2 separate regions of the Homo sapiens genome follow, and region 2 is linked to region 1. The links come from fine-mapping of genetic effects on gene expression. A gene starts in region 1. The other region holds a variant in brackets. All regions are shown on one strand. Distances are from middle to middle. Region 1 holds the start of FHIP1A-DT (FHIP1A divergent transcript). Region 2 overlaps FHIP1A (FHF complex subunit HOOK interacting protein 1A).

Region 1 (16,206 bases):
ACCAATTACTATCTTCTCTTGGGGAAAACATTAAAACCAAAAAGAACCTGAAATGTGAGGAAATGAGGTGAACCTTACCTAAAAGCTCAGCACCTTTTGCTGTTATGACCTCTTATTTCAGTGGCTGGTCATCTATTAATAATTTCTGTCTTCAGTCTTGTGCATTCAGAAAGAAAGAATATGTTCATATAACTAAAAATGAAGGGACACTACTAGAGGAAATGTAAATAAAAGAAATTTAACATTTTCATAACAGTGACTCACAAACCTTTCCTACAGAAAACACAAGTGTACAATGATAACACTTTCAAGGATGTTCTCTGAAGCACTGTTCTTAATATAGAAAAATGGAAAACAATCCAAATTCCCAACAAAAGGCTGTTTAAATAAACCATGTTATAGGGCCAGGCATGGTGGCTCACGCCTGTAATCCCAGCACTTTGGGAGGTCAAGGCAGGTGGATCACCTGAGGTCAGGAGTTTGAGACCAACCTGGCCAAACCCTGGCTCTCCTAAAAATACAAGAATTAGCCAGACATGGTGATGCACACCTGTAGTCCTAGCTACTCAGGAGGCTGAGGCAGGAGAATTGCTCGAACCTGGGAGGGAGAGGTTGCAGTGAGCTGACATTGCACCACTGCACTCCAGCCTGGGTGACAGAGCAAGACTCCATCTCAAAAAAAAACAAAAAAAAAAACCAAAAAAACTATATCTATTCAATGCATTACTATACAGCCAGTAAAAAAAACAAAATGAGAATGATGTGCATGTATGGTCATAAAAACATTTTCAAGGTATATTATTGAGTTAAAAATAAAAACCAAGTTGAAAGTTGCATAGGATTACCCCAGTAGTTATTAACAACCACGTTAATAATAAACATTTTTAAATAGAGGGAAAAATGAAGGGAAATATATCTATTTATAGCAGTTTATCCAGAATATAACATTGCAGTGTACTTTAACTTTTAACATTATATATTTCTATATTGTTTAGAATTTGAATAATATGTATCATGTATGTAATAAGAAAATTAACTCTCATTTAAGTTAGTGATATAATTGGAAAGGAAGTAGGAGAAAATCATATTTATAAAGAAAAGGATAAACTTAAGGGTGTTAACTTTTTATAATAGCTCTAAAATATCATTTGTCTCTACCTGTCTTTTAGAAGGCAGTAGTATCCTCACTCTCAGAACTTCAAAATTAAGCAAAACACATAGATACTGGAAAAGTCCCCTTAGCATCTCCCCTTAGTAATGCCTTCTGAGAATAAAAGTTTAGTCCAAATTCCAGTATTTATCAAATTCAACTGGGCAAGAATGCCAGCTTCTAAACATTGCAGACAAACCGCACATCTCTACTTCTAAGTAAAAGTAATTACAGAATTAACAACAAAAGGGTACAGATTCTGCAGACTCGAAAAACCATTTGAAGCATTTTCAAAATGGAAATTTAAGGAATTAGATAAAAATACTTTTGAATCTATAGTCCAGTAACCTGTTCAAAGATTGTAAAAACTAGATAGAGGCCAGACGCGGTGGCTCAAGCCTGTAATCCCAGCCCTTTGGGAGGCCGAGGCGGGCAGATCACCCAAGGTCAGGAGTTTGAGACCAGCCTGGCCAACATGGTGAAACCCCATCTCTACTAAAAAAATACAAAACTTAGCCGGGCATGGTGGCGCATGCCTGTAGTCCCAGCTACTCGGGAGGCTAAGGCAAGAGAATCACTTGGACCTGGAAGGCGGAGGTTGCAGTGAGCCGAGATTGCACCACTGCACTCCAGCCTGGGCGACAGAGTGAGACTCCGTCTCAAAAAAAAAAAACAAACAAACACTAACTAGATAGAAGGCAAAAGAACTGCCTAGAAAGGAAACTGAAGAATCACTAGCAAGGTAAAACTTTCTACCTGCCTGGGAAAGGTTTGTCTCTACAGTTGACCTTGTCTGGGAGAGGTTTGTCTCTACAGTTATGTGACCAAGAGCATAACATTTAAACTCCTACACCTCAATTTCCTCACCTGTAAAATGGAAGAACTGGGAATACATAATTTTGGCTCTAAAATTCTGACAAAAGACCTTTGCTCCATCCTTGCCAAAGGGCTTTTTTTTTTAAGTAATACATATGAGGCCAGGCGCGGTGGCTCATGTCTGTAATCCCAGCACTTTGGGAGACTGAGGCAGGCGGATCACTTGAGGCCAGGAATTCGAGACCAGCCTGGCCAACATGGTGAAACCCTATCTCCACTAAAAATACAAAAATTAGCCAAGCATGTTGGTGCATGCCTATAGTCCCAGCTACTCGGGAGGTTGAGGCAGGAGAATGGCTTGAACCCAAGAGGCGAAGGTTGCAGTGAGCTAAGATTGTGCCACCGCACTCCAGCCTGGGCAACAGAGCGAGACTCTGCCTCAAAAAATAAATAAAGTAAAATAAAGTAATACATACGTACACAGTATAAAATATTATCTAATATTATAAGGTACATAGCCAAAAACAGCAGATTCCTGTCTGGCTCCTCCTCACCCCTGAGTTTCATTCTCCGAAAGAAGGTCCTTCAACTCTTTTAGCTATTTCTTCTGGTAATTACTTCTATATTTGTAAATCATGCACTTATACTGCTATTTACAGAGTTTTTCAATTTTAGACATTGCCAAAATTCCTTATTCAATCTATCAAGGTATTTATTCACCTACGCCACTTCCCAAGATCTCCCTCCCAAATTTAATGGAGGTTACTTCAATTTTATTGCACAGCTATACTGTTGAGATGCCAAGGCTATACAGACTATATGTTACATGTGTACACACACTTACACATACACATATATGTACATATTCATATATAGTCCTGTCATCCTGTCTCCACATGAGCTCATATTTTGGTTAATAAGAAATAAGAGGGCCAGGCACGGTGGCTCACGTCTATAATCCCAGCACTTTGGGAGGCCAAGGCAAGTGGATCACCTGAGGTCAGGAGTTCGAGACCAGCCTGACCAACATGGAGGAACCCCATCTCTACTTAAAATACAAAATTAGCCAGGCGTGGTGGTGCTTGCCTGTAATCCTAGCTACTCGGGAGGCTGAGGCAGGAGAATCCCTTGAACCCGGGAGGCAGAGGTTGCGGTGAGCTGAGATCACGCCATTGCACTCCAGCCTAGGCAACAAGAGCAAAACTCCATCAAAAAAAAAAAAAAAAGAAAGAAAGAGAGAGAGAGAGAAAGAAAGAAAGAAGGGAGGCAGGGAGGGAGGGAGGGAGGGAGGGAGGGAGGGAGGAAGGAAGGAAGGAAGGAAGGAAGGAAAGAAAGGAAAGAAAGAAAGAAAGAAAGAAAAAGAAAAGCCCATTTCACATCCAACCACTTCACAAAATGTAACAAGGAAAAAAGTGAAAGCATGGGCTGTAAATCAGAAATCCTGAATTCAGGTCTCAGTCCACAATATACAGGAGCAAAGAGTATGCCCATAAAAGTCCCTTATTATTGGCCGAACACAGTGGCTCACGCCTGTAATCCCAGCACTTTGGGAGGCCGAGGTGGGTGGGTCACCTGAGGTCAGGAGTTTGAGACCACCCTGGCCAACATGGCGAAACCCCATCTCTACTAAAAATACAAAAAAAATTAGCTGAGCATGGTGGTGGGCACCTGTAATCCCAGCTACTCAGGAGGCTGAGGTAGGAGAATCGCTGGAACTGGGAGGCAGAGGTTGCAGTGAGCCGAGATCACACCATTGCACTCCAGCCTGGGCAACAAGAGTGAAACTCCGTCTCAAAAAAGTCCCTTATTATCTCTGAACCTCATCTGCTTTCCTCCTGTGTAATCTAAACACAATGGCATCTACTACAAAATGGTTAAATCACAAGGCACAAACATGGTACATGAAAGCACTCTGTGAAACATAAAGCACTACAGAACTGTTCACTTCTGTTATTGTTTTCATTAAGAGATCCCTATAAATGAAGTTCCTGGAGTTTCTTGTCACTCTTGAGCACTGTTCCCCTACCTGGGCTAAGAACCAAGGGTTGGAAGTTGCTAAAAATAAGGATGAAGTAGATCTAAATTGTGTTTCAATGGCAGAATCTGATCCAGATCTTCACTGGGCCTACGTATCACCCTAGAAGACAGATGTACACAGAATAAAGATCAAGTGTCTAAACAGATTAAATAAAGCAATTTTGCTTTATATTTGCATGGAGAAAGGAGGTTCCTTATTAAATTTTCTTTATGAAAGTAATACAAGAGGCCAGGCATGGTGGCTCACACCTGTAATCCCAGAATTTTGGGAGACCAAGGCAGGCGGATTGCTTGAGTCCAGGAGCTCAAGGGCAGCCTGGGCAACGTGGCAAAACCCTGTCTGTATGAAAATACAAAAAATTAACAGAGTGTGATGGCATGAACCTGTGGTCCCAGCTACTCAGGAGGCTAAGGTGGGAGGACTGCCTGAGCCCAGGAGATCAAGGCTGCAGTGAGCCGAGATCATGCCACTGAACTCTAGCCTGGGCCAGAGAGAGAGAGAGACCCTAACTTTAAAAAAAAAAAAATATATATATAATTTCACTCCTCAGAGGCAATTCTTGTTTTTTCTCATTTTACCTCCATATCTCTACATAATATATTTGTACATCTGCTTCTTGTTTGCAGTCATTATCTATCAAGTTCCTATTAAAGAAAGAACTTAGCAGAGAAAGTATTTTGAACCAATCTTGGGAGGCAGAGTACAGAACTGTCCAGCAATGCATCACTCTGACTATGTAAAAATAAAACACTCCTTTTATTTCTAGTCTTCAAGTCCTCCATTAAAAGTCCTACACAATGTCTTTATATGAGAGCCAAGAAAAAAGGTAGCTGGGCAGTTGGACCTAAATTTTTAGACCACTCTCAATCACTCTCTGAATCCACTTCAGTGATGTCCAGTTTCTCTGCCCCTTTCCAGCCACCCTACACAGTTTAATCCTGTTCCTTGTCCTACAGGACAAATGATAAATAGGACCCCAAACTTAATTTATTTCAAGACAGGCATGGACATAATTCTTATGAGCTCTGCGGAAAGGGATTAACTGGAACTAAAAAGATATCAACCTTTAATTATGCGAAAAGTTACCTAAAGCCAACAAGTATACTGTATTAAAGAGTAAATTTATGGACTAAATATCCTGCTCAATTTCGGTCCAAAGAAGACCTTTGAAGTTCTCCAAACGTGGACTTCAGCTGTGGTTCACTACATGTGGACAGCTTCGGGGACAGCATCCTGCCTAGTGCCAGGTGTACAAGTGAACTTGAGGTCAGGCAGGTGACCCTGACAAGCAGGCATAATACATTAAGGAGAGGAAATCTTCCCTCTCATTAATCAACAGGATAAAGGTAATTAAGCAGGAATTATTTTTCAATGACCTATATAATTTCATCAGGGCTGCTATGACTATTAGCAGGGAGCAGCTGACTTCCTAATGAGATGAATTTGATAGCACAGCCCTTCCAGAGAAGCCAAGGGAGCAAGCCCAATCTATAGGGAAGCAACAATTGTTAGGCATTGTTTACTCCTCCTCCTGAAAGCTGTCTCTCCTTCTCAACATTTGGCTCTTTCCCTTCAGGGGGGTTTCCCTGTCCCTGGATAGCTGGGGCTGCAGCATCTGCTGAATAGTGGAAGCTAGATCTGCTGTGAATGGGTGGGTCCAGGAGGCTGGGACACTAATTCACTAGACCTGCTCATGTGATTCCCAAAGTCCCAAGCCAACAAGGCTACCGCCGCCTGCACCAACACCTCGCTCTGACCAGGCCTGAAATAAGACACCAAGGTAGTTCTTCCCACTCCCTAGCAGAAGCGGAGTTAACAAGGGACCTTTGTTGAGCCAGAGGAAACACAAACACATACACACTATCAATAATAACCACGACTTGAACGCAGTTTCATCACAGAATTTACGAAATTGAGCAACAGCTACCTAACCAGTAAGTCCTTACACCAGGAAAGGGCTGCAAACCTCAGAGGGGCACCGCCTCTGTCTCCTGTGTAAGCAAGTTGATTTACAGGGGAAACCTGAACTCCACATCTCTTTGCCTTTTCCTGTGCCTCCCAGAGGACCCTGGGACCAAGGAATGGGATGGAGGGCCCTAATGACATATTCCTTCGTCAAAACAAGCTGGCTCTCTCTCTCCCAGGGTCAGTCACCGCGTTACGCCCCGTCCCGGAGCCCGAAACCCTAGAAGTCACCTCCTCCCCCCTGCGCCCCCGCCCGACGCAGCGACCTCGTTTGGAACATCCCCAGCCGGCCCCCAGCCCAATGCCTGCTCCCTCAGCCCAATGCCCGCACCCCCTGCCCAGTTGGCGGATGCAGAGAAGGGACATTTCGACTCTCCCTCCTCCTTCAACCCTCTAAAATAAAAGAATCCCTCAAGCGCAAATCTCCGGCCAGCACAGCACCTACCTGTCCCCGGCCGTGGCTCCTCCTCCCCGAGCAGTGGGGCTCGCTGGACAAGTGTCCTCAGATAGTCCAGAAAGTTTGCTCTGCGGTCCCGGGGACGCCTGCGCGGGACCCAGTGAGGAAAGCCGGGCTGGCTCCTCGCACCTCGGGCGGCCGCCGCTCGAAAGTCTTGGCCCAGGTCCTCCAGGCCCGGCTCAAACTCAGGAGTGCCCGGGAAGAATGTAGGTCGTGAGAAGGTCGGAGCGCAACTTTTCGAAGGTGCGTCAGCCGCGGGCTGAGGCGCGTGGGTCACTGCCTCCCCCCAGCCTCTCCCTAGTGAGCGCGGGGGGGGCGGGGGCGGGGGCGGGGGCCGGGGCGGGGCAGGGGCGGGGGTGGGGCCCAACCTGCCTGGAGGCCTCGGGGAGCGCGCCCCGGCCCCGCCCCCGCCGCCGCCGGCCCCGCCTCTGCCGCTGGGACACGCCGCCGCCAGGTGCGCCGGGGACTTAGGCAGTGCCGCGCCGCACGGCCCGCGCCGGTTTCCAAGGTGAAGGAGGAGGAGCCTCTGAGGGAAAGTTTCCACAGAAACTTGAGCTGGGCGCAGTGTAGCACTCGCGCCCTTGGGGGCTAGCGTTTGGCCGGAGCTACACACTCTTTACTCACGCACGCACACCGCCGTACACAGCACAATCGTTCACCGTCCCGCCAAAGGCTCGTCTCTCGGGTTCTGCCTAGTGGAAGGAGTCGGACAACGCCGCACGTCACGGGCGTTTCGGATTTCTTGCTTCCCAAAGGTTTGACGGCGGCCACCGGCGCCCCGGCCCAGCTCTGCTTTCCTTTGCTGACTCCTTCCTTTAGGTGTGAATTTTAAAATGCTGATACCGCCCCAAGAGAGCTGAGTCAAGTGAGGCAAACGTTCGCCTGTTGTTCTCCTGACAGACTCCCTGCAGTGGGCAGGGGAAATGTGGCCTTGGCCGACATTAATGAAGTGCCAGGATGGAGGGAGGGGGCCTGCTGATTTGTTCTGTTTTACTTTTTAAGGGTAACTAGAGCGTTACTGGAGTCGTCTGTGGGTTTGGGGAGTATGTGGCGCGTGTGTGTGTCACACATTTCACTGGCAACTCCCGCCAACCCCTTCCCAAGAAATGAAGGCTCTAATGTGGGCAGTTCTGCAACAAAGGTGAAACTTCCCCAAATCACGATTCCCCGCAAGATGAGAGAGCAGGTGCAGCATCCATTTTCCCACTATCACGCTTGAGATGGTGGCTTTGGGCACTGCCGGGTGCCCCGACATCCTTCCCAGAGCCCAGCCTTCCCACCCAGGCCCGGCCCTGCGCGGCCGCCTGCCTTTGCATCAGAGACCGCGGCTGTGCCATTGCCAAGGTGGGCAGCGCCGCCTCGCTTCCCCATTCCTCCGTCTCCCACGCCTCTTGCGTGTTTGAGTCGCGAAGTGATGGACTTTAAATCTCAGAGGAGGAATGAGAAACTTGGTTAGTGGCTCTCTTGGCATGTTCGTAGCCCTGTGGTTGAAGTGGCTGAAACCTGCGTTGAGCCTCAGTCCAAGCAGCTGGGGCCACACCAGTTTGCAAAAGCGGATGTGGCAGTTTCCACCGCAGCAGCAGCCTGCTGGCGCCTCATCAGATTCTCCTTTGGAGGAAGTATCTTCTTCCCTTCATTCTCGGTGAATGGCATCCAGAGATAACCAAAATCAGGTGTATCTAGTTTCAAGTTCTGTCTTGCAACCGTGATAATTGGAGGATGCAAACTTTACACTTTCTTCTCTAGCTGTCTACCACCACTGCTGCGCTTGTGGATGACTGCAGGAACACCGGGTACTTGCCACAAGTATCTCTCCAGATTCATCAGCCTTTCACCTGTGACAAGCTCAGTCAAGAAGTGGCTCCTAAGTAAAAGCTGGGGAAGAACAAGGAAGATAGAGCTCAGAGTAGAAAGCTGTGAAGTTCTGCACAACAGGTCCCCTTGGCCTGCTCTAACAGTTGGAAGGTGGGGGAAGCATTCATTTACTCAACAAATATATACTGAGTGCCTTTTGCATGCTAGGCACGCTTCTAGGGGTTGAGGACACAGCAGAGAGCACAAACAACAATTCCAGCCCTCGTGGAGCTTACCTCTTCCACGTGGGAAAGACAGATGGTAAATGTATAAGGACAATATATGGACTGCTGTATGATTAGAAATGCTATGGAGAGGCTAGGAGTGCTGTCTCATGCCTGTAATCCCGCAGTTTGGGAGGCCAAAGGAGGAGGATCACTTGAGGCCAGAAGTTGGAGACCCAACCTGGGCAACATAGTAAGACCCCCTATCTACAAAAAGTTTAAAAATTAGCCAGGCATGGTGGCGTGCACCTGTAGTCCTAGCTATCCAGGAGGCTGAGGTGGGAGGATCACTTGAGCCCACTGCATTCCAGCCTGGGTGACAGAGTGAGACCCTGTTTTGAAAGAAAGAAAGAAATGCTGTGGATAAAAATTAAGCAGAGAGGGTACATAGAAAGTATGAGGGGTGCTATGTTCGGAGAGGGGTGATGATCAAGGAAAGCTTCTGGAGGAGGTAACATTTGAGGAACGACTTGAGGGAGGTTAGGGATATCTGAGCAGACAACTTCCCAGGCAGAAAGCATAGCAAATGTAAAGGCCCTGAGGCAGGAGTATGCCTAAGTGTACTAGGAGCAATCCAGAAGGCACCATGAAAGAATGGAGAAGATGAAGTCAAAGAAGTGAAAGGTGGGGGTGATGCAGATCAGGTAAGGCTTTTACTCTGAGTGAGTTGGTTGGAGCCATTGGAGGATTTTGTGTAGAAAAGTGACACTTTCTGACATTGTAATTGGATCACTTTGACTGCTGGGTTAAGAATAAACAGTAGGGTGTAAGGGTAGAAGCACAGAGACTGGTTAAGAGGCTACTAAAATAATCTAGGGTCAGCCGGGTGCGGTGGCTCATGCCTGTAATTCCAGCACTTTGGGAGGCCAAGGTGGGTGGGTCACAAGGTCAGGAGATCAAGACCATCCTGGCCAACATGGTGAAACCCCGCCTCTACTAAAAATACAAAAAATTAGCCAGGTGTGGTGGCACGCACCTGTAGTCCCAGCTACTCAGGAGGCTAAGGCAGGAGAATCACTTGAACTCAGGAGGCGGAGGTTGCAGTGAGTAGAGGTTGCAGTGAGCCGAGATTGCACCACTGCACTCCAGCCTGGGCGACAGAGCGAGACTCCATCTCACAAAAAGATAATAATAATAATTGAGGGACAAGAAGATAGAGATGTGGACCAGAGAAATAGTGGTAGAGATGATAAGCTGATGGTTTCCTCACATTGGATGTGGGGTATAAAGGAAGGAGATGAGAAGGACTCTGAGGCTTTTGGCCTGGGCAGCATAAGGATGGAACTGCTATAACAAAGTTGGAGAAGACTTCAAAAGGAGGTTAGGGTAAAATCAAGGCAGGAAGGAGAGGCGCATAATTTGAATGTGGGCAGCGTAAGGACGGAACTGCTATAACAAAGTTGGAGAAGACTTCAAAAGGAGGTTAGGGTAAAATCAAGGCAGGAAAGGAGAGGCGCATAATTTGAATGGTCTTCAGTTTCTTCAACTTATAAAATGAAAGTAATACCTACTTTGTTAAGGTTGTTTTAGGATGACAAATTAGCATAGTGAAGTGTATAACACAATGCCTAATACATGATAGACACTTAAGAATGTTAGTTCCCTCTCTACAAATATGAATTTCATTCATATCCATTATGCCCTCTGGGAGTGAAACAGACTCATTCTTTTGAGGAAATAAGTCTTGCTAAAGGTAAAGGGGCTGTCTCCTTCTCCCATTCTTGCCATATGACACTGTCTGCTCTCTCTTTGTCTTCCACCATGAAGACAGGCATGGTAGCTCATGTGGAAGCTTCCCGAGGCCCTCACCCAGAAGCAGATGCTGGAGCCATGCTTGTACAGCTTGCAGAACTGTAAGCCAATTAAAACTCTTTTCTTTATAAATTAAAATAGATAAATAAAAATAAAGGATAAGCAGATGTGGTGGTACGGGCCTATAGTCCCAACTGCTTAGGAGGCTGAGGCAGAAGGATCAATTGAGCCCAGGAGGTCGAGGTTGCAGTGAGCTTTGAGTGCCACTGCACGCCCACCTGGGCAACAGAGTGAGACCCTGTCTCTTCTTAAAAAAAAAAAAAGTTGGAAAATATCTATTACATGGAAATATATTTATAATATTGTATAAAGTAAGTCTACTATAAAAGTAAGTGTGTAAAGTAAGATTCTCTTTACAAATATTAATAATGATTATCTCAGCCAGGCATGGTAGCTTATGCCTGTAATCCCAGAACTTTGGGAGGCCGAGGCAGGTGGATCACCTGAGGTCAGGAGTTCGAGACCAGCCTGACCAACAAGGTGAAACCCCGTCTCTACTAAAAATACAACAATTAGCTGGGCGTGTTGGCAGGCGCCTGTAATCCCAGCCACTCGTGAGTCTGAAGCAAGAGAATCACTTGAACCTGGGAGGCGGAGGTTGCAGTGAGCCAAGATTGCACCATTGCACTTCAGCCTAGGCAACAAGAGTGAAACTCCATCTCAAAAAAATCATAATAATAATAATGATTATCTCAGTACTAGGATGACAGTTTATTTTTATTCTCTGTGCTTTTCTCTACTTCCAAGTTTTCTGCCATAGGAAGGTATCACTTTCTCTCAGGAGTGGAATTGCTGGATGATAGGCTGTATATACAATGAGATTTAGTTGATACTGCCAAACAATTTTCCAAAGTGATTATACCAATTTATGCTCCCACTGACAACATATAAGAATTCCAATATGGAGCAGTGCGTTTTTTAACAGCATCATCCAGTTAAACAGCAATTAATTTGAACCTACTGCTTTAGAAGTTAATTAAGCAAAAGTTAAAAATAAGTATATTGGCTGTAAATGCATATATTAGTAACAGTAGCCGTTTCTAAATCATGTTTTTTATTAATGTATTTCATTTTATTCTTTTTGTTTTGTTTTGTTTTGTTTGAGACGGAGTTTCACTCTTTGGTCCAGGCTAGAGTGCAGTGGTGCAATCTCGGCTCACTGCAACCTCCGCCTTCCAGTTTCAAGTGATTCTCCTGCCTTGAAATTGCAATCCCGAGTAGCTGGGATTGCAGGCGCCCACCATCATGCCCAGCTAATTGTTGTATTTTTAGTAGAGATGGGGCTTCACCATGTTGACCAGGCTGGTCTTAAACTCCTGACCTTGTGATCGGCCTGCCTCGGCCTCCCAAAGCGCTGGGATTACAGGCATGAGCCACCATGCCTGGCCCCTCTTTATTCATTTTTTATACTCTTCAGCTCTGTTATTATAGTACTTTAAAGCACTGAAATTATATTTCTTTATTGTAGAAGCCAGTCAAGACTTCTCCCTCTTTTTCTTACCACCTTTATTTCCATTTTAAAATGTAATTATATTTGAAATTACATTTTTTTCAAATTATTAAACGTGTTAAATACTAGATATTCAAGATTACATGAACAAAGGAGAGAAGTATTTCATCATTCACACACACACACATACATACACAAATTCTTCTTTCACAGAGCTCATAGGACTATAGATCTTAACACTCCTATGAGGAAGTGGACAAAGTGCATCATCTGTGTTTAAGAAAAGCAGAAGCTAAAATGCAACATAGGGAAGTTGTCCCAGATACCTTGGAATTGAAAGTAAAAAGTACATGAAGACATTATCATCTGTAGTCAGATTAAATCTAAATTTAAATTATCTTCTGTAGTTGCTTCTCTTAAAAAAAGAGCTCAAAAATGAACAATGTGTATTCTGTTATAATAGTAATCATGCTGTCAAGAAATTCTTTTTTCTTTTTTTTTTTTTGAGATGGAATCTCGCTCTGTCACCCAGGCTGGAGTGCAGTGGCACGATCTCGGCTCACTGCAAGCTCTACCTCCTGGGTTCACGCCATTCTCCTGCCTCAGCCTCCCAAGTAGCTGGGACTACAGGCTCCCACCACCACACCCAGCTAATTTTGTGTATTTTTAGTAGAGATGGGGTTTCACCGTGTTAGCCAGGATGGTCTCGATCTCCTGACCTTGTGATCCGCCCACCTCGGCCTCCCAAAGTGCTGGGATTACAGGCATGAGCCACTGTGCCTGGCCAAGAAATTCTTTTTTCTAACAAGTACAATTAATAAAAATATGTTAGCAGAGAGGGTAGTGGCAGAGATTCCCACAATAGTACCCAGTGCTCAGTCTGGTGGAGTTGGCAGTACATGCTGCAGCATTTTTGCCAAATAGTGGTAATAATGGCATGTCCATTGGAGTAGATCTATAATATGATTTGGGTGTTGTTCCTAGTTATATAGCTGTCAAGTTTACATAACCTCTGTGGACAACTTTATAGATTCAATAAGCTACTTAATATTATAATAAGTTATTTTCTTTTAAATCAGCTGCATATGTTTTCTGCAGTTTGTAGCAGAACTCTTGACAGAGCTGTATGTTACATTTATTTTTGTCTGTTTTCAATGGCCAAGACATCAAGTACTGTTTTGCAAGGTAGTGGTCATAGTGGGTGTATTAGTCCGTTCTCACACTGCTATAAAGATACTACCTGAGACTGAGTGATGTATAAAGGAAAGGGGTTTAATTGACTTACAGTTCCACATGGCTGAGGAAGCCTCAGAAAACTTACAATCATGGTAGAAGGCGAAGGGGAAGCAAGCACCTTCTTCACGAGGCAGCAGGAGAATGAGAGTGTGAGCATCAGATAATGTGAGAACTCACTCACTACCAGGAAAACAGCATGGGTGAAACCGCCCCCGTGATCCAGTCACCTCCCACCAGGTCCCTCCCTTGATACATGGGGATTACAATTTGAGAAGAGATTTGGATGGGGACACAGAGCCAAACCATATCAGTGGGGATCATTGTGTTGTTATCAAACCTAAAGGGAATACAAGGTAGACACTACTAGTTGCCTATTCAATTTCAAGTCTCTATTTTTATCTTTCTACCAGAACGCCCTCCCCGCTTTTTTATAGCAGCAAAATGCAACCACCTTTGCAACTACAGGTAGTTATATGACACAGTCCAAGCCAATGGAATGTAAGAGGATGTCCTTGCATGTACTTTCAGAAAGCCCAGCTGGCTTGGTTCCATGAATCTTTGCCCTTCTTTCCATCCACTTCTTCCTGCTTGGACATTGGTTACCTGGAGAAGCAGAAGCCATTTTAAGATGATGAAAGCAAAAGTTAAATGTATGAGATGATGGTGCAGAAAGCCAAAAGGGGCCTCCAGAACACTGAGCTTTGTGGAGTCGTGTACCATAGCTGTATTGCCGACCTCTGAACTTCCTGCTGAGATAAAAAACAATCCTTATGTGTTTATACTACTTTTATTTCAGTTTCTTTTAAGTATAGCAAACACATTCCAAATAATATGCATCTGAAGTTTTTGGTTTTGTTTTTAAATTTTTTTTTTAGGGATGGGTTCTGGCTGCGTAGTGGCTAGAGTGTAGTGGCTATTCTTAGGTGCGGTCATAGCTCACTACAGCCTCTAACTGGCCTCAAGCAATCCTCCCACCTCAGCTTCCAGGGTAGCTGGGATTACAGGAGAGCACCACACTGAAGTTTCTGTTAAATAGAATGTTTGCTGTAGATTTTTAGTTGATGTCCTCTGTTAGGTTGAAAACCTTCCTTTATTTTCTTGTGAAATTTCTAAGAGATTTTTAAATCATTAACTGGTATTGAACTTTATAAAATGATTTTTCTGTGTCTGAGATGATCATGTGATTATTTTTCCTGTTTATGTCCCTTGATGTGATGATTTTTATTGTAGATCTTCCTTTATTGAACCAAATTTACGTTATTTATATTAACCCTATTTGATTGTAATATATTTTTAGTAGGGTATTAGACTCTGTTACCTAACATTTTACTTAGCATTATTTTGCATCTATGTTCATAAGTAAAATAGGAGTTTTTTTCTTTATGTGACTAGGTATCAACATTATATTGGCCTTATAAATTATGTTGAACACTTTGCCTATTTTTTCTGTTTTTCCAGGGCAACTTGTATTGTAGGAATCATCAGGCAATAAGATGCAGGGAAAACTCTGGATACTGCATACCCAAAGTTGAATACATTTTTCTTCTTTTTGAAACTTTTAATACACATAAAGACAAGTGCACGTATTATAAGTATATAGTTCAGTTTATTTCGACAACCTGAATAAACCCATGTAATCAGCACCCAGATCAGGAAACAGAATCTGGAAGCTTCCTTGTGTCCCCTTCCAACCACTATTTCCCCTCAAAGTTAATCCTGACTTCTAACTGCATAGATTTGTCTTGTCTATTTTTGTACTTTATATAACTAGAATAATAGAATAGATACTCTTTTGTATCTGTCTCTCTGGTTCTTATTTGTAAGATTCATCCATATTGTTGATGTTGATGTGCTTATGGGTAGTTTATTATTTGCTGTATATAGTATTTCATTGGGTAAATACTCCATGAATTAGTTATCCATTACTACTTATAAGTGTACAGCTCAGCTTATTTCCACAAGCCAAATAGACCCATGTAATTGATGGTTGTTTGGTGACAGAGAGAAGGGTTTTTTTTTAAATCTTTTAAAATGCATGACAGGAAAGTAGAATTACTTAAGTATTAAAAAAACAGTAAGAAGGGGAAATTAAAATGGTGTAGCTACTTTGGAAAATAGTCTGATAGTTCCTGAAATAATTAAACATAGAGTTACTATATGACCCAGCAATTGCACTCATAGGCATATATGCAAGACAAAACATATGTCCACACAAAAACTTGTACATAAATATTCATAGCATCATTAGCCACAATATCTAAAGGGTGAAAATAATCCAGATGTCCAACAACTGATGAATGGTTAAACAAAATGTGGTATACCCATATAATGGAATATTATTTGGCCATAAAAAGTAATGAAGTGGCCAGGCGCCATGGCTCACACCTATAATCTAGCATTTTGGGAGGCTGAAGCGGGTGGATCACTTGAGGTCAGGAGTTCAAAACTAGCCTGGCCAACATGGTAAAATGCCGTCTCTACTAAAAATACAAAAAAAATTAGCCAGGTATGGTGGCAGGTCCCTGTAATCCCAGCTACTTGGGAGGCTGAGGCAGGTGAATTGCTTGAACCTGGGAAGCAAAGGTTGCAGTGAGCCAAGATTGTGCCACTGTACTCCATCCTGGGTGACAGAGCGAGACTCCATCTCAAAAAAAAGGAATGAAATATCAATAGGATATACACTGCAATATGGATGAAGCTTGAAAATATTATGTTACATAAAAGAAGCCAGGTATGAAAGATATTATTGTATGGTTCCATTTATATGAAATGTCCAGAATCAAAATAGACAAATCCATACAGGCAGAAAGAGACTTGGGCAGTTAGAGTTAAAGAGGGGAATGGGGCATGACTGATAATGGATACAGGGTTTCTTTCTGGTGTCATGAAAATGCTCTGGAATTAGATAGTAATGATGGTTCTACATGTAAATATACTAAAACCACTCAATGCATACTTTTAAAAAGATGACTTTTACAGCATATGAAATATCTGTCCATTTTTTTTAAAGGAAAGTAGAATAAAAGAGCGCCAGAGCCGGCACTTGTCTGGAAATTATCCACTGATCCCTGGTGGCCTACAACCTGGGTTACAATGGGATATAAATGAAGGGACAGGAGACAAACCTTTAGAGGAAGACACTAGGAGAAGGGGGGTGGCAGTGGAATCCACAGAGGAAGACAGTGAAGATATGTGCCTTTTTGA
Region 2 (16,206 bases), 100 kb before region 1:
GTATCTCATTGTGGTTTTGATTTGCATTTCTCTGATAGCCAGTAATGGTGAGCATTTTTTCATGTGTCTTTTGGCTGCATAAATGTCTTCTTTTGGTAAGTGTCTGTTCCTGTCCTTTGCCCACTTTTTGATGGGGTTGTTTGTTTTTTTCTTGTAAATTTGTTTGAGTTCATTGTAGATTCTGGATATTAGCCCTTTGTCAGATGAGTAGGTTGCAAAAATTTTATCCCATTTTGTAGGTTGCCTGTTCACTCTGATGGTAGTTTCTTTTGCTGTGCAGAAGCTCTTGAGTTTAATTAGATCCCATTTGTCAATTTTGGCTTTTGCTGCCATTGCTTTTGGTGTTTTAGACATGAAGTCCTTGCCCATGCCTATGTCCTGAATGGTAATGCCTAGGTTTTCTTCTAGGGTTTTTATGGTTTTAGGTCTAACGTTTAAGTCTTTAATCCATCTTGAATTAATTTTTGTATAAGGTGTAAGGAAGGGATCCAGTTTCAGCTTTCTACATATGGCTAGCCAGTTTTCCCAGCACCATTTATTAAATAGGGAATCCTTTCCCCATTGCTTGTTTTTGTCAGGTTTGTCAAAGATCAAACAGTTGTAGACATGCGGCGTTATTTCTGAGGGCTCTGTTCTCTTCCATTGATCTACATCTCTGTTTTGGTACCAGTACCATGCTGTTTTGGTTACTGTAGCCTTGTAGTATAGTTTGAAGTCAGGTAGTGTGATGCCTCCAGCTTTGTTCTTTTGGCCTAGGATTGACTTGGCGATGTGGGCTCTTTTTTTGGTGCCATATGAACTTTAAAGTAGTTTTTTCCAATTCTGTGAAGAAAGTCATTGGTAGCTTGATGGGGATGGCACTGAATCTATAAATTACCTTGGGCAGTATGGCCATTTTCACGATATTGATTCTTCCTACCCATGAGTATGGAATGTTCTTCCATTTGTTTGTATCCTCTTTTATTTCCTTGAGCAGTGGTTTGTAGTTCTCCTTGAAGAGGTCCTTCACATCCCTTGTAAGTTGGATTCCTAGGTATTTTATTCTCTTTGAAGCAATTGTGAATGGGAGTTCACTCATGATTTGGCTCTCTGTCTGTTATTGGTGTATAAGAATGCTTGTGATTTTTGTACATTGATTTTGTATCCTGAGACTTTGCTGAAGTTGCTATCAGCTTAAGGAGATTTAGGGCTGAAACAATGGGGTTTTCTAGATATACAATCATGTCATCTGCAAACAGGGATAATTTGACTTCCTCTTTTCCTAATTGAATACCCTTTATTTCCTTCTCCTGCCTAATTGCCCTGGCCAGAACTTCCAACACTATTTTGAATAGGAGTGGTGAGAGAGGGCATCCCTGTCTTGTGCCACTTTTCAAAGGGAATGCTTCCAGTTTTTGCCCATTCAGTATGATATTGGCTGTGGGTTTGTCATAGATAGCTCTTATTATTTTGAGATATGTCCCATCAATACCTAATTTATTGAGAGTTTTTAGCATGAAGGTTGTTGAATTTTGTCAAAGGCCTTTTCTGCATCTATTGAGATAATCATGTGGTTTTTGTCTTTGGTTCTGTTTATATGTTGGATTACATTTATTGATTTGCATATATTGAACCAGTCTTGCATCCCAGGGATGAAGCCCACTTGATCATGGTGGATAAGCTTTTTGATGTGCTGCTGGATTCAGTTTGCCAGTATTTTATTGAGGATTTTTGCATCAATGTTCATCAAGGATATTGGTCTAAAATTCTCTTTTTTGGTTGTGTCTCTGCCTGGCTTTGGTATCAGGTTGATGCTGGCCTCATAAAATGAGTTAGGGAGGATTCCCTCTTTTTCTATTGATTGGAATATTTTCAGAAGGAATGATACCAGTTCCTCCTTGTACCTCTGGTAGAATTCGGCTGTGAATCCATCTGGTCCTGGACTCTTTTTGGTTGGTAAGCTATTGATTATTGCCATAATTTCAGAGCCTGTTATTGGTCTATTCAGAGATTCAACTTCTTCCTGGTTTAGTCTTCGGAGGATGTATGTGTCGAGGAATTTATCCATTTCTTCTAGATTTTCTAGTTTATTTGCATAGAGGTGTTTGTAGTATTCTCTGATAGTAGTTTGTATTTCAGTGGGATCGGTGGTGATATGCCCTTTACCATTTTTTATTGTGTCTATTTGATTCTTCTCTCTTTTCTTCTTTATTAGTCTTGCTAGCGGTCTATCAATTTTGTTGATCCTTTCAAAAAACCAGCTCCTGGATTCATTAATTTTTTGAAGGGTTTTTTGTGTCTCTATTTCCTTCAGTTCTGCTCTGATTTTAGTTATTTCTTGCCTTCTGCTAGCTTTTGAATGTGTTTGCTCTTGCTTCTCTAGTTCTTTTAATTGTGATGTTAGGGTGTCAATTTTGGATCTTTCCTGCTTTCTCTTGTGGGCATTTAGTGCTATAAATTTCCCTCTACACACTGCTTTGAATGTGTCCCAGAGATTCTGGTATGCTGTGTCTTTGTTCTCATTGGTTTCAAAGAACATCTTTATTTCTGCCTTCATTTCGTTATGTACCCAGTAGTCATTCAGGAGCAAGTTGTTCAGTTTCCATGTAGTTGATTGGTTTTGAGTGAGTTTCTTAATCCTGAGTTCTAATTTGATTGCACTGTGGTCTGAGAGACAGTTTGTTACAATGTCTGATCTTTTACATTTGCTGAGGAGAGCTTTACTTCCAACTATGTGGTCAATTTTGGAATATGTGTGGTGTGGTGCTGAAAAAAATGTATATTCTGTTGATTTGGGGTGGAGAGTTCTGTAGATGTCTATTAGGTCCGCTTGGTGCAGAGCTGAGTTCAATTCCTGGGTATCCTTGTTAACTTTCTGTCTCGTTGATCTGTCTAATGTTGACAGTGGGGTGTTAAAGTCTCCCATTATTATTGTGTGGGAGTCTAAGTCTCTTTGTAGGTCACTCAGGACTTGCTTTATGAATCTGGGTGCTCCTGTATTGGGTGCATATATATTTAGGATAGTTAGCTCTTCTTGTTGAATTGATCCCTTTACCATTATGTCATGGCCTTCTTTCTCTCTTTTGCCCTTTGTTGGTTTAAAGTCTGTTTTATCAGAGACTAGGATTGCAACCCCTGCCTTTTTTTGTTTTCCATTGGCTTGGTAGATCTTCCTCCATCCTTTTATTTTGAGCCTATGTGTGTCTCTGCACATGAGATGGGTTTCCTGAATACAACACACTGATGGGTCTTGACTCTTTATCCAATTTGCCAGTCTGTGTCTTCTAATTGGAGCATTTAGTCCATTTACATTTAAAGTTAATATAGTTATATGTGAATTTGATCCTGTCATTATGATGTTAGTTGGTTATTTTGCTCATTAGTTGATGCAGTTTCTTCCTAGCCTCGATGGTCTTTACAATTTGGCATGATTTTGCAGTGGCTGGTACTGATTGTTCCTTTACATGTTTAGTGCTTCCTTCAGGAGCTCTTTTAGGGCAAGCCTGGTGGTGACAAAATCTCTCAGCATTTGCTTGTCTGTAAAGGACTTTATTTCTCCTTCACTTATGAAGCTTAGTTTGGCTGGATATGAAATTCTGGGTTGAAAATTCTTTTCTTTAAGAATGTTGAATATTGGCCCCCACTCTCTTCTGGCTTGTAGAGTTTCTGCCGAGAGATCCGCTGTTAGTCTGATGGGCTTCCCTTTGAGGGTAACCTGACCTTTCTCTCTGGCTGCCCTTAACATTTTTTCCTTCATTTCAACTTTGGTGAATCTGACAATTATGTGTCTTGGAGTTGCTTTTCTCGAGGAGTATCTTTGTGGCGTTCTCTGTATTTCCTGAATTTGAATGTTGGCCTGCCTTGCTAGATTGGGAAAGCTCTCCTGGATAATATCCTGCACAGTGTTTTCCAACTTGGTTCCATTCTCCCCATCACTTTCAGGTACACCAATCAGCGGTAGACTTGGTCTTTTCACATAGTCCCATATTTCTTGGAGGCTTTGTTCATTTCTTTTTATTCTTTTTTCTCTAAACTTCCCTTCTCACTTCATTTCATTCATTTCATCTTCCATCACTGATACCCTTTCTTCCAGTTGATCGCATCGGCTCCTGAGGCTTCTGCATTCTTCACGTAGTTCTCGAGCCTTGGCTTTCAGCTCCATCAGCTCCTTTAAGCACTTCTCTGTATTGGTTATTCCAGTTATACAGTCGTCTAAATTTTTTTCAAAGTTTTCAACTTCTTTGCCTTTGGTTTGAATTTCCTCCTGTAGCTCGGAGTAGTTTGATCATCTGAAGCCTTCTTCTCTCAACTCGTCAAAGTCATTCTCCGTCCAGCTTTGTTCCGTTGCTGGTGAGGAGCTGTGTTCCTTTGGAGGAGGAGCGGCGCTCTGCTTTTTAGAGTTTCCACTTTTTCTGCTCTGTTTTTTCCGCTCTGTTTTTTCCCCATCTTTGTGGTTTTATCTACTTTTGGTCTTTGATGATGGTGATGTACAGATGGGTTTTTGGTGTGGATGTCCTTTCTGTTTGTTAGTTTTCCTTCTAACAGACAGGACCCTCAGCTGCAGGTCTGTTGGAGTTTGCTAGAGGTCCACTCCAGACCCTGTTTGCCTGGGTACCAGCAGTGGTGGCTGCAGAAGAGCGGATTTTCGTGATCCACGAATGCTGCTGTCTGATCGTTCCTCTGGAAGTTTTGTCTCAGAGGAGTACCCGGCCGTGTGAGGTGTCAGTCTGCCCCTACTAGGGGGTGCCTCCCAGTTAGGCTGCTCGGGGGTCAGGGGTCAGGGACCCACTTGAGGAGGCAGTCTGCCCATTCTCAGATCTCCAGCTGCGTGCTGGGAGAACCACTGCTCTCTTCAAAGCTGTCAGACAAGGACATTTAAGCCTGCAGAGGTTACTGCTGTCTTTTTGTTTGTCTGTGCCCTGCCCCCAGAGGCGGAGCCTACAGAGGCAGGCAGGCCTCCTTGAGCTGTGGTGGGCTCCACCCAGTTCAAGCTTCCTGCCTGCTTTATTTACCTAAGCAAGCCTGGGCAATGGCGGGCGCCCCTCCCCCAGCCTCACTGACACCTTGCAGTTTGATCTCAGACTGCTGTGCTAGCAATCAGCGAGACTCTGTGGGTGTAGGACTCTCCGAGCCATGTGCGGGATATAATCTCCTGGTGCGCCGTTTTTTAAGCCCATGGGAAAAGCGCAGTATTAGGGTGGGAGTGACCCGATTTTCCAGGTGCCGTCTGTCACCCCTTTCTTTGACTAGGAAAGGGAACTCCCTGACCCCTTGCGCTTCCTGAGTGAGGCAGTGCCTTGCCCTGCTTCGGCTCGCGCACGGTGCGCTGCACCCACTGTCCTGCGCCCACTGTCTGGCACTCCCTAGTGAGATGAACCCGGTACCTCAGATGGAAATGCAGAAATCGCCCGTCTTCTGCGTCGCTCACACTAGGAGCTGTAGACCGGAGCGGTTCCTATTCGGCCATCTTGGCTCCACCTCGGGATTGCATTTCATGAATATTTTAACTCTACCCCATGGACGAATAATATATTATCCATTTGTAAAATACCAAAGGACTGATAGTCCCGTGAATTTACCTAGGCCATCTTAATTATAATTTTAGATTGAATAATACATATTATTTCACAGTTTCCAAAGAGCTCTCTGTCTAGTTGGAGCAGCCTAATGGGGATTTGTCATATCAGGCTGGAATTCAGGGTCTCCTTCCATGTTTTCCAGAGTAGCCTGTAAGTAACTCTACCACAGCATTTCCATATTGTTTTGCAATTGTATACTTCCCCCAAAAGATCATAAAGTCTTTAAAGGCAAGAGCTACATCTTGAAATTCAACTTAGTTATCTCTAGAGATTAGTATGGTATCTGTCACATATGGGACAGTCAATAAATGCTAAATGAATAGAAAAATCAATAAATAAACAGCCATTTCAAGAGTCCCAGCAAAGACTCTCAATTCAAAAATGTCTCCTTCATCCAGATTCTACTGTAGCTGAAATTTGATCACTAGAAACTGTTACCTTTAGATTCCTTACTGCTGTTACCAGAAAAACATTTTTAAATGTAAAAGTGAGAAGATAAAACATTAAGTCACTAAAACCCACTGCTAGATTGCTAGCTCCTTGAAGGCAAGAGAAAGGAACCATGTCAACGCTGAATCC[C/T]GACTATAGTAAGATCCCTAGGACAGATGAGGTTCAAAAAATGCACTCAGTAGAAATCACACATCAAACTGCAAACAGGTTAAGTAAGAGGTTAACATTAAGGGAAGCTGGGTGAAGGGTCTACAAGAACTCTCCATACTATTTTTGCAACTTTTCTGTAAATCTAAAATTATTTCAAAATAAAAAAATCTCTTTTAAAATGCTGATAGGGCCAGGCATGGTAGCTCATGCTTATAAATCCCAGCACTTTGAGAGGCCAAGGTGGGAGGACAGCTTGAGGCCAGGAGTTTGAGACCAGCCTGGGCAACACAGTAAGACCCCCATCTCTACAAAAAATTGAAAAAAATATTAGTGGGCACAGTGGCATGCATCTGTGGTACCAGCTACTCAGGAAGCTGAGGTGGAAGGATCACCTGAACCCAGGAGCTTGAGTCTGTAGTGAGCCATGACTGCACCACTGCACTCCAGCCTGGATGACAGTGAGACCATGACTCCAAAAAAAGAAAAAAAAAATGCTGGCAGGGAGGGTCCCAGGCCATGTGTAAAGTGAGGGAGCTAAAAGCAGCAGGAAGTTTGCAGGCACATGGAAAAGGAAAGGGCCAGAGTAGGAACAGCAATCTCTCCTTCCAGTTTCCAACCCTGTCCAGGACCTGCCATGTTTTAAAGATACTTTAGATTGCAGGAAAATTATTGGGCCTCCCAAAAGGTTCCTGCCCAACAAAGAAAGATAAATCATTCCTTGACCAAGCTGATGTTTCCAATCCAGATCATAATATTCCAGAGAGATATATCGTGGGGGGAAATTAATTTCTTTAAATGTATATATACCTACACACACACACACACACACACACACACAAACATAGAGACAGTATTTTTAACGTACTTTGAGCAGCTCAACGGGAAAGGAATGTGGAATGAACAAAGGAGGCGTCTGAGGTGCAGTCTACCTGAAAGCTAGCCTTCTATTGGTCACCATTATTCCCTGCCCCGACCACTATTTACTTATGTGTCAGCTGAGAATGACAACCGAGGTACATTTCACACAAAAATGAGCTCACAAATGGTGCCCTCGGTCTCCAAGGGCAGAAGTCATATCTGCTAATGTAGTCTGTACCATCCCTGGCTCACTACCCCAGGAAGGTAAAGAACTTGGCCAGGCAAGGTGGCTCACGCCTGTAATCCCAGCACTTTGGGAGGCTGAGGCGGGCGGATCACGAGGTCAGGAGATCGAGACCATCCTGGCTAATGTGATGAAACTCCGTCTCTACTAAAAATACAAAAAAAAATTAACCAGGTGTGGTGGCGGGTGCCTGTAGTCCCAGCTACTTGGGAGGCTGAGGCAGGAGAATGGCGTGAACCCAGGAGGCGGAGGTTGTGATGAGCCGAGATCACGCCACTGCACTCCAGCCTGGGCGACAGAGTGAGACTGTCTCAAAAAAAACAAACAAACAAAAAAAATACTTAATAAATGCTTCCAGTCATGCCAGTGACTGAAAAAGTCAGTTTGCTTCCCAGCTCCTTTACTCTCCTCGAGTAATATTTATTTAGTATTCATTTGTACATGGGAAGCCCCATCCTAGCACTGTAGCACTGCTTAAGAATGTCTGACACCTGCTCAAAGAGAGGAATTTCATCCAAACCCAAAAGGAGGAAAAACTGTTGTTTTAAGGGTTTCCTAGATTTTTTGGGAGGGGACAGAAGTTTTAAGAGGAGTGCTCTTTCAACATTGTGGGTAGTTTTTAGGGAGGGCTGGCTGGGGAGAAAGAGAGTATGTAAATGCTGACTGGTAGGGAAATGGACTTTTCCAATCTTTGAGCAGGCTGTTTGCTCCGCTCTGTCTCTGACAGGGTCAAGTCAATCCCAAGAAACCAGCATTACCTGGTTCCAGGACTCAGTGGGTTCCAAGTCCAAGTCACCTATTTTTGGTAAGCCCATGATTCTAAGCCTTCCAAGAGTAAAAGTGTCAAACTTTGATTCTGAGAGCCTTTCTATGCAAGTATACTGCTGAATTTTTTGGTTTAAACAATGGTTAGGGATAGAGGGTGTGCTACTGTTCACCTACAGGGCGAGAAGAAGGCAGCCTGTTCTTTCTCACCACTCATCATTTACCTATAGCTTCAGCCCTGGACCACCTACAGCCACGTATTCCTGATGGGAAATTTCTAGATGGGCCAGATCCCAGCTCAAGGCAAGAGACTAACAATTCCAGAACCAGCAACCAAAGGAGACAACCCTGGCCAGTGGACAGACCTCAGTACACCTAACATTACTAGGCTGCACATGAAGGCAGGACCCACGAATCTTTCTCCCCAAATTATTGTGCCTGCTTTGTTCTTTCCCAGATCTTAAGTTCCAAAAGGGGTTGTTTTCCATTTGTAAATATTGCATCTCTCTGAGATATTCTAAGATTAAATAAAAATTGAGTTACTCAAAAGCACAGAGCCACATAAAATTCTGCAATCCTGTTTTGTAACTCCTGCTTTATCTACCTAGTTCCATCTCTGTGCCTCTTCCAAACCTTTTATAAACCTGCTGGATAAGGCCTTGCCTGATTTCTTGGTCTTCCTGTACCACTTCCTCCAGTCTTTACCTCAAAATAGCCTCTTCAGTTTTCATTCTATATTCTATCTTCTTCAGAATCCTTCAGATTCAAAATGCGTCAAGAAAGAGACTCTAAGTTCAGTACTACTCAAGCTTCCAGGATCAGAAACATTTACCTCCCCTGTTTAAATAATATATAACACAATCTCACTGGTAAGCAATAGCCTTTACCATTCTTTTCAGCTCCTGATCCCTTCTATCCCTGTAAATATCTCCATCTCTCTCTCAGAGGACAGAACTGTGGTTCTCAACGTGTTTAAACCATAAGGAGGTGGGGGATGAGGAGAGCAGTAGGGATTTTTCTATGGGTCATTACAATTTTGAAAATAAATATCGAAAACATTATAGATGCCCTTGTTCACTTAATAGCCAAGAAAGCATATCCTATAACATACAATATGCATCTAAGATCATCTGCCACAGCACTTGGCAATGTATAATGATATGAAAATTAAAATCCACTAGATAATCCTTAACTATCAAATACTAATAAATACACATATTAAATGGAAAGAGGGAAAAAATAAATAATCTAGGTTAAAAATAATAGATAACATGTTCTAACTTTTCACATTTTTTCTTATTTTCTCATTTTTTCCTCACTCATTCCTTATTGTAATCCTAGCACTTTGGGAGGCCAAGGCAGGAGGACTGTTTGAGCCCAGGGGTTGGAGACTAGCCTGGGCAATATAGCGAGACCCCATCACTACAAAAAATTTAAAAATTAGCCAGGTGTGGTGGTGCAAGCCTGTGGTCCCTGATACTTGGGAGGCTGAGCTGGGAGGATCACTTGAGCCTGGGAGATCAAGGCTGCAGTGAGCTGTGGTCATGCCACTGCACTATGTCCTGGGTGACAGAGTGAGACCATATCTCAAAAAAAAAGTGGGGGGGCAGGGGAAAGGCTTTCACAGCATAAATAGAGGTAGTGGAATGAATCACTTAATGAAGCAGTGCCATTCTGGGTAGGAAATCTCAACTAGAAACAAGTACCTTGTGTTCAAGATTATGGAAGTCTCATTTTTGCCTTATGTGCTAATGGCATGTCATATTTGATTTATTTTTTGTTGAAATGGGAAGACCTGTCCTCTGTCCCAGGAAGCAAAGTTGTTTGTAAATAAATTTAAAAAATAATTACAATTCTAAATCTCTTCCCATATTACATAACTGGTTTCATATTTTTATGTTAATTCAGCACTCTTTGAAGGCATGTGATATAGTTTAGATATGTGTCCCCTCCAAGTCTCATGTTGAAATTTGATTCCCAATATTGGAGATGCGGCCTGGTGGGGGATGCTTGGATCATGAGGGTGGATCCTTGATGAAGGGCTTGGTGCCATTTTCTTAGGAGTGAATAACTTCTCACTCTTAGTTCCCACAAGAACTGACTGTTAAAAAAAGCCCGGTACTCCCTCCCCTCTCTCTCTTGCTTCTGCTCTCTTACCATGTGACCTCCACATACAGCAGCTTCTCTTCACCTTCCGCAATGAGTAGAGGTTTCCCAAGGCCCTCACCAGAAGCAGATGCTGGTGCCATGCTTATTTTACAGCCTACAGAACCATGAGCCAAACCAACCTCATTTCTTTATAAATAACTCGGCCTCAGGTATTTCTTTATAGCAACATAAATAGACTAAGACAATATACTGCAATATACTTCTTTTCATTTAGTGAAAATACTTCCTTAACAAAGTTCATAGAAAACTCAGTGTAGCCTTGCAGTCATTGTAAATATTTTATTAACTATCCTGTTCCAAAAATGGCCCTTCTCTTCCTACTCACCACCGAGGTCAATTTCATTCCCCCATTTAGGCCAGGCACAGTGGCTCACACCTGTAATACTAGCACTTGGAGAGGCCAAGACAGGGGGAATGTTAGAGGCCAGCCTGGGCAACGCAGTGAGACACCCACCTCTACAAAAATGAAAAAATTAGCCATGCATGGTGGCATGTGCTGTAGACTCAGCTACTCAGGAGGCTGAGGTGGGAGGATCACTTGAGCTCAGGAGTTCGAAGTTCCAGTGAGCCCTGATCATGTCACTGTACTCCAGCTTGGGTGACAGAGCAAGACCCTATCTCAAGAAAAAAATTCCTTTATCCAATTTCCCACAATATCATTCAACAAAAAAAGAAGGGTAAACTGGCTGTTGGAAAGTAACCAGTAGTTATAGATGGACAGAAAATCTTTTGTGTAATCTTCCTTCAATTTTTAAAAAATTTTCACTATGTTGCCAAGGCTGGTCTTGAACTCCTGGTATCAAGTGATCCTTTCTTCTCAGCCTCCTGAGTAGGTGGGACTACAGGCTCACACCATGCCCACTTGAATGTTATTTATTAAAACTAAGCTTTTGATAAAGACTCAACAGCAGAGAATTAAAGATTTTTCTCTTTTTGTGAACATTCAGCGTTCAATTATTCAAAATTACCGATCAAGAATATATTCATATGCTTCACAGTGGTCATCTGAGTGGCAGATTGCTGTCCCCTTCTGAAAAATGTTAAGAAGTCTAGCAATGACACTGGAATAAATGGCCACTTCACCTTTGCATGGAAGGGGTCGATGATAGACTGTAATAGGTAATGATTATGGGTGTCCTGAATGTTTTTCCCTCATTGCCATTTGGTAATAGCAGCCCCTTCCATTTGGGGACTCCTTTCTTATTTCATGTAGTTTTGTAAGGATAATAATCATGTTTGTCTATAGCCTCCCCAATTCCTATCTTCTATTCATCATCACGAAAGTAGGCAATGTGACCCAGGCCTAGCTAATCAGAGACCCCCATTTTCCAGGCTACAGTGATGTGTTCAGGGAGAAGCAAATGATCTCATTAGACAAGTAAGAACCCTCCCTAGAACTTTTGTGATACAATCTAGTGGGTAAGACATTTACGTTTTTAGGATAGAAGTACAGGACAATTGATAGCCTGGAGCTTACTTCCTGTGTCACATGGAGGACATACATACAGTAGAAGAAAGGGAAGCAAGGAGACACAGAGACAAACAGAGACTGGGTCGGGGGGTAATGGGCAAGAGCAAATGAATTTCTCTGATAGTAGAGTCCTGACAGTTTTCTTCTATTTTATGAGTTAAAATTTCTTCCCAGGCTGGGCGCGGCGGCTCCCTCCTATAATCCTAGCACGTTGGGAGGCCGAGGTGCGTGGATCACCTGCAGGCAGCAGTTTGAGACCAGCCTGGCCAACGTGGTGAAACCCCTTCTCTCCTAAAAATACAAAAATTAGGCATGGTGACACATGCCTGTAATCCCAGCTATCTGGGAGGCTGAAGCAAGTGAATTGCTGGAACCCAGGAGGCAGAGGTTGCAGTGAGCCGAGATCGCACCACTGCACTTCTGCCTGGGCGACAGAACAAGACTCCGTCTCAAAATAACATAACATGACATAACATAACATGACATAACATAACATAACATAACATAACATAACATAACATAACATAAAATTTTTTCCCAGCTAGATGAGCTAATAAATTTCTTGTTCTGCTTAAACAGGTTTGAGTTGGGTTTCTATCATGTATAACTTCAAACATCCTGAGTAATATACTGGCTGAGGAAGTATCTGGGGATACAGTCCTGATTTTCTTTTCTATTCACTTAAATAACTGGCTTAATAAACCACTGAGGGCCCAGTGTTCCATGCTGAAGGAGATACTCATGTTAAGTCTAACCTAGAATTTTTCCAAAGCTGGTATTACTAAATCACAGCCAGAGGAAAAAAAATCTCAGTGTGGAAATGATCAGTAGCCAACTGTACAGGCATTGTAGCTTGTTTCTGATAAATGTTTGAGGATAAGTGAGTTGCAAACATTTTCCCTGAGAGATGCTATTCCAGTTAAATGTAGGGAGATATATATTTTAAAAGGTAATTGAGGAGAATCACCAGACTAAAGGGAATAGGTTTAGAATAGTTGATCTCGAGTTACTGTTGGTAAGGCTAATTTGGTAAGGAAGTTTTCTCTTTGGGCTATTGTTTGTACAAATATGACCATATAACAAGTTGGAGAACATTTACCTTTAGGTTTTGTGCAGTTAGGATTCATGCACCCAGGGGACATTCCTATTGTTTTGCATTCAAAGTAAATCTGAGTGGAATTCTGATTCCTAAGGATGGGAACAGAATTGAAAGAGGATCTAAGAACAAAGGATTTGAGGTTAAGATCTGCCCACAGGGAGTCTATGCTATAGAGAAAGTCTGGTGTTGTTACAATAAAGTAGGCCTTTGGAACCTAGTATGTCCTAATATACTTGGGGAGAAGCAATGAACTAAATGGAACCTGAAAGGAATAAGCATGCCAGAAGAATTCAGCATTTTTTTCATTTGTGGGATTGTAACCAAGTATTCCCATTTTTCTAAGAGAAAGAGAATGAGTTGGGTTTTTTTTAATTTTTTTCTCTTCTTTTCTCTTTCCTCCTTTCCCCCTGTTCCCTACTTTCTACTTGGCTCTTTAGAAATGCAATTAGAACCTCTATCTTCCCTTCACCAGACACTGTCTACAGATCAAGCTTATCTAACTGTGTGCTTGGAAGCTCCAGAGCCAAAAACCTCTCCCACCAGGAGATTGCCTCAAGAGATGACAGTCAATTTACAACCTAAAGTATGCCCACTACAAAACTCTTTCCTACATGGAGAATATCCTGAGACAAAGACCACTTTAAAAACTAGTTCTGCCCATGATGGCGCCAGCTCAACCATCTGGTAGATAAGGTACCAAAGTGAGTCACATGGACCCTCACCTGTTCACTCCCTCCCCTGTATGCCATTCATGCCAAGTTCTCCCTTTAAAAGCCCCTGCTTTGTGCTCCCAAAGCAAAGCAGTATCCATAAGGTAGGAGTACTTCTTCCCCTAACCTACCTTTGGAATAAAAAGTCACTTTCTTTATACTAGACCTCTCTCTTGTTAATTAGACTCCGCAAGTGGTGAGCAACTGAACCTGTAATTTGGTTACAGAATTTTGGTGAAACTTTTATTTGTTTCCTCAAAGACAAATAAGGCGCAAATGTGGAGAAACATAATGGGCCCATTCCAATTTCAGAAGAAGAATATGAAGTTAATGTAGTAAACCAGATGTTTCAGTATAACGGTCATTAAATTTCTTTAGCTGTATTGAAAATATGGGCCAACACCAACAATGTAAGGACTGCGTGAAGACAGAGAAATGACACCTCTCTAGCATTCTCTGGTCTGCAGCCAGTAGAGTGTTTTTAGTTGTCCTTGCCTGCTATGAATTGAACACAAAATTGTATATTGTTCAAGAATATTAATAATAAACTGAATGGCCTCAAATGAAACTCTCCTTCTGTACTCAATGTCTAGCACATTGCCCCTTTCTCTTCTCCTTTTAGGATTCCCATAATGCATGTTTTAGGTTTGATGGTATCCCACAGGTCCCTTAGGCTCTGCTCATTTTTCTTCCTTCTTTTTGCTTTCTACTCCTCAGATTGGGTGATTCCTGTTGCCCTATCTAAAAGTTTCCTAATTCTTTCTTCCACCTGCTCAAATCTTCTTTTGAACCCCTCTACTGAATTTTTCACTTCAGTTCTTGTATCTTTCAGCTCCTGAATTTCTACATGGTTTCACTTTATAATTTCTATTTTTTTAAACTGATATTACCTATTTGGTCATGAATTGTTCTCCTGATTTCCTTTAGTTTGTTTGTTTGTTTGTTTGTTTGTTTGTTTGTTTTTTGAGATGGGGTCTTGTTCTATCACTCAGGCTAGAGCACAGTGGTACGATCACAGCTCACTGCAGCCTTGATCTTCTAGGCTCAAGCAATCCTCCCACCTCAGCCTCACTAGCAGTTGAGACTACCTGGCTAATTTTTTCTTTTCTTTTTTTTTTTTTTTTCTTTTGTAGAGACAGATTCTCCCTATGTTGCCCAGACTGGTCTCAAATTCCTGGGCTCAAGTGATTCTCCCACATTGACCTACCAAAGTGCTGGGATTACAGGCATGAGCCATTGTGCCTGGCCCCTTTAGTTCTTTATCCATGGTTTCTTTCAGCTCTCTCAGCATACATAATTTAAAGTCTTTGTCTAGTAAGTCTAATATTTGGACTTTCTCATAGATAGTTTCTGTCCATTTCTGTTTTTCCTATGAATGGCCATACTTTTGTGTTTCTTTGTAGGATTTGTAGTTTTTGTTGAGAACCAGGTTTTCTAATAAAGGTTTAGTATCCAGAATATATTTAAAAAAAAAAAAAAACTCTTACAACTCAACAACAAAATGACCAACAATTCAATTAAAAAATAAGCAAAGGACCTTGAATAGACATTTCCCCACAGTAGATATACAAATGACCAACATAAAAAACATGAAAAAATGTTCAAAATCTTTGATTATCAAAGAAATACAAATGAAAACCATGAGATAACACTTTATATCCACTACAATGGCCATAATTTAAAAATTAAAATTTTAAATTAAAGAAAACAGAAAACAAAAAAATTTCTTTGATTATCAAAGAAATACAAATGAAAACCATGAGATAACACTTTATATCCACTACAATGGCCATAATTTAAAAATTAAAATTTTAAATTAAAGAAAACAGAAAATAACAAGTGTTAGTGAGGATGTGGAGAAATAGAAACACTTGTACATCGGTGTTTCTATTAAATAATGTATTAAATATTAAAATAGTGTAGGCATTGTGAAAAAGTCTGGTGGTTCCTCAAAAAGCTAAATATAGAATTACCACATAACCCAGCAATTTCAGGACTAGCTAAATATCTGAAAGAACTGAAGACAGGTACTCAAGCAAATACTTGTTTGTGAATGTTCATAGCAGCATGATTCACAACCAAAAAGTTGTTGATCCAAATGTCCCAAATTGCCCCCTCCATATATGGCAAGTTTATTTTATAAAATAACCTAAATGTGGGTGTTTATATTGCCTTTATTACTGCTGATATCACCAAAATTCAAACAGAGTATTTTGTTATCTATGCCCAATCTATATCCGAAAGGGAGCTTCACTCCAATGCTTTTCAGAAAATCAATATTCGTACAGTGAAACCTGAATTTAAACGAGTGCCATTTTAACCAACACAGCAGTACTTTTCAGTGCATCGGCAATTTTTGTCAGCTAAAAATACTTTAAACATAAAAGTATATGCTGGTGTGTCCGTGGTGAGTAACCTATCTGAAAAATATATAATTTAACACCTCCAACAATTTCATGTATCTTTCTGATTTAAGGTATTTCAAAGAATTAGGATTAGGCTTTTTTCCTGGAAATGTCTGAACATGTTTCCTGGAATGATCTAAAAATATCTTTGGCTAGATTAGGGCCTTAACTCTAAGACCACAATGAATACCATTAATAGTACCTTAGGCTTCAATAGCAGTTACAATGTGGCCTGCACTGCTTAAATTACTTGACATATAAATAAATATAGTCCTCACAACAACCCTATGAGGTATGTAGACTATTATTTTCCCAACTTTATCACTG

What was found. PIP is the estimated chance that this variant, and not a neighbour inherited with it, causes the effect.
Region 2: its variant is the best candidate, but not a certain one, in a credible set for the expression of FHIP1A-DT in whole blood (INTERVAL, PIP 0.56).

The regions. Positions count from the first base shown.
Region 1 is chr4:151,399,674-151,415,879 of GRCh38, reverse strand. FHIP1A-DT (FHIP1A divergent transcript) reads left to right here and starts at 6,988. Exons shown (of 3, transcript NR_183963.1): 1 at 6,988-8,697; 2 at 10,272-10,357; 3 at 14,461-14,804. FHIP1A (FHF complex subunit HOOK interacting protein 1A) reads right to left here and starts at 6,704. Exons shown (of 14, transcript NM_001109977.3): 1 at 6,415-6,704. RefSeq lists silencers at 6,745-6,914, 7,035-7,507 and enhancers at 6,734-7,433, 7,434-8,133, 7,965-8,274.
Region 2 is chr4:151,500,550-151,516,755 of GRCh38, reverse strand. The region is part of intron 3 of FHIP1A (FHF complex subunit HOOK interacting protein 1A); the gene reads right to left. Among named protein-coding and RNA genes, the nearest start is that of FHIP1A, 99 kb to the right of the region's middle. The variant C/T (reference allele first, on the strand shown) is at 6,138.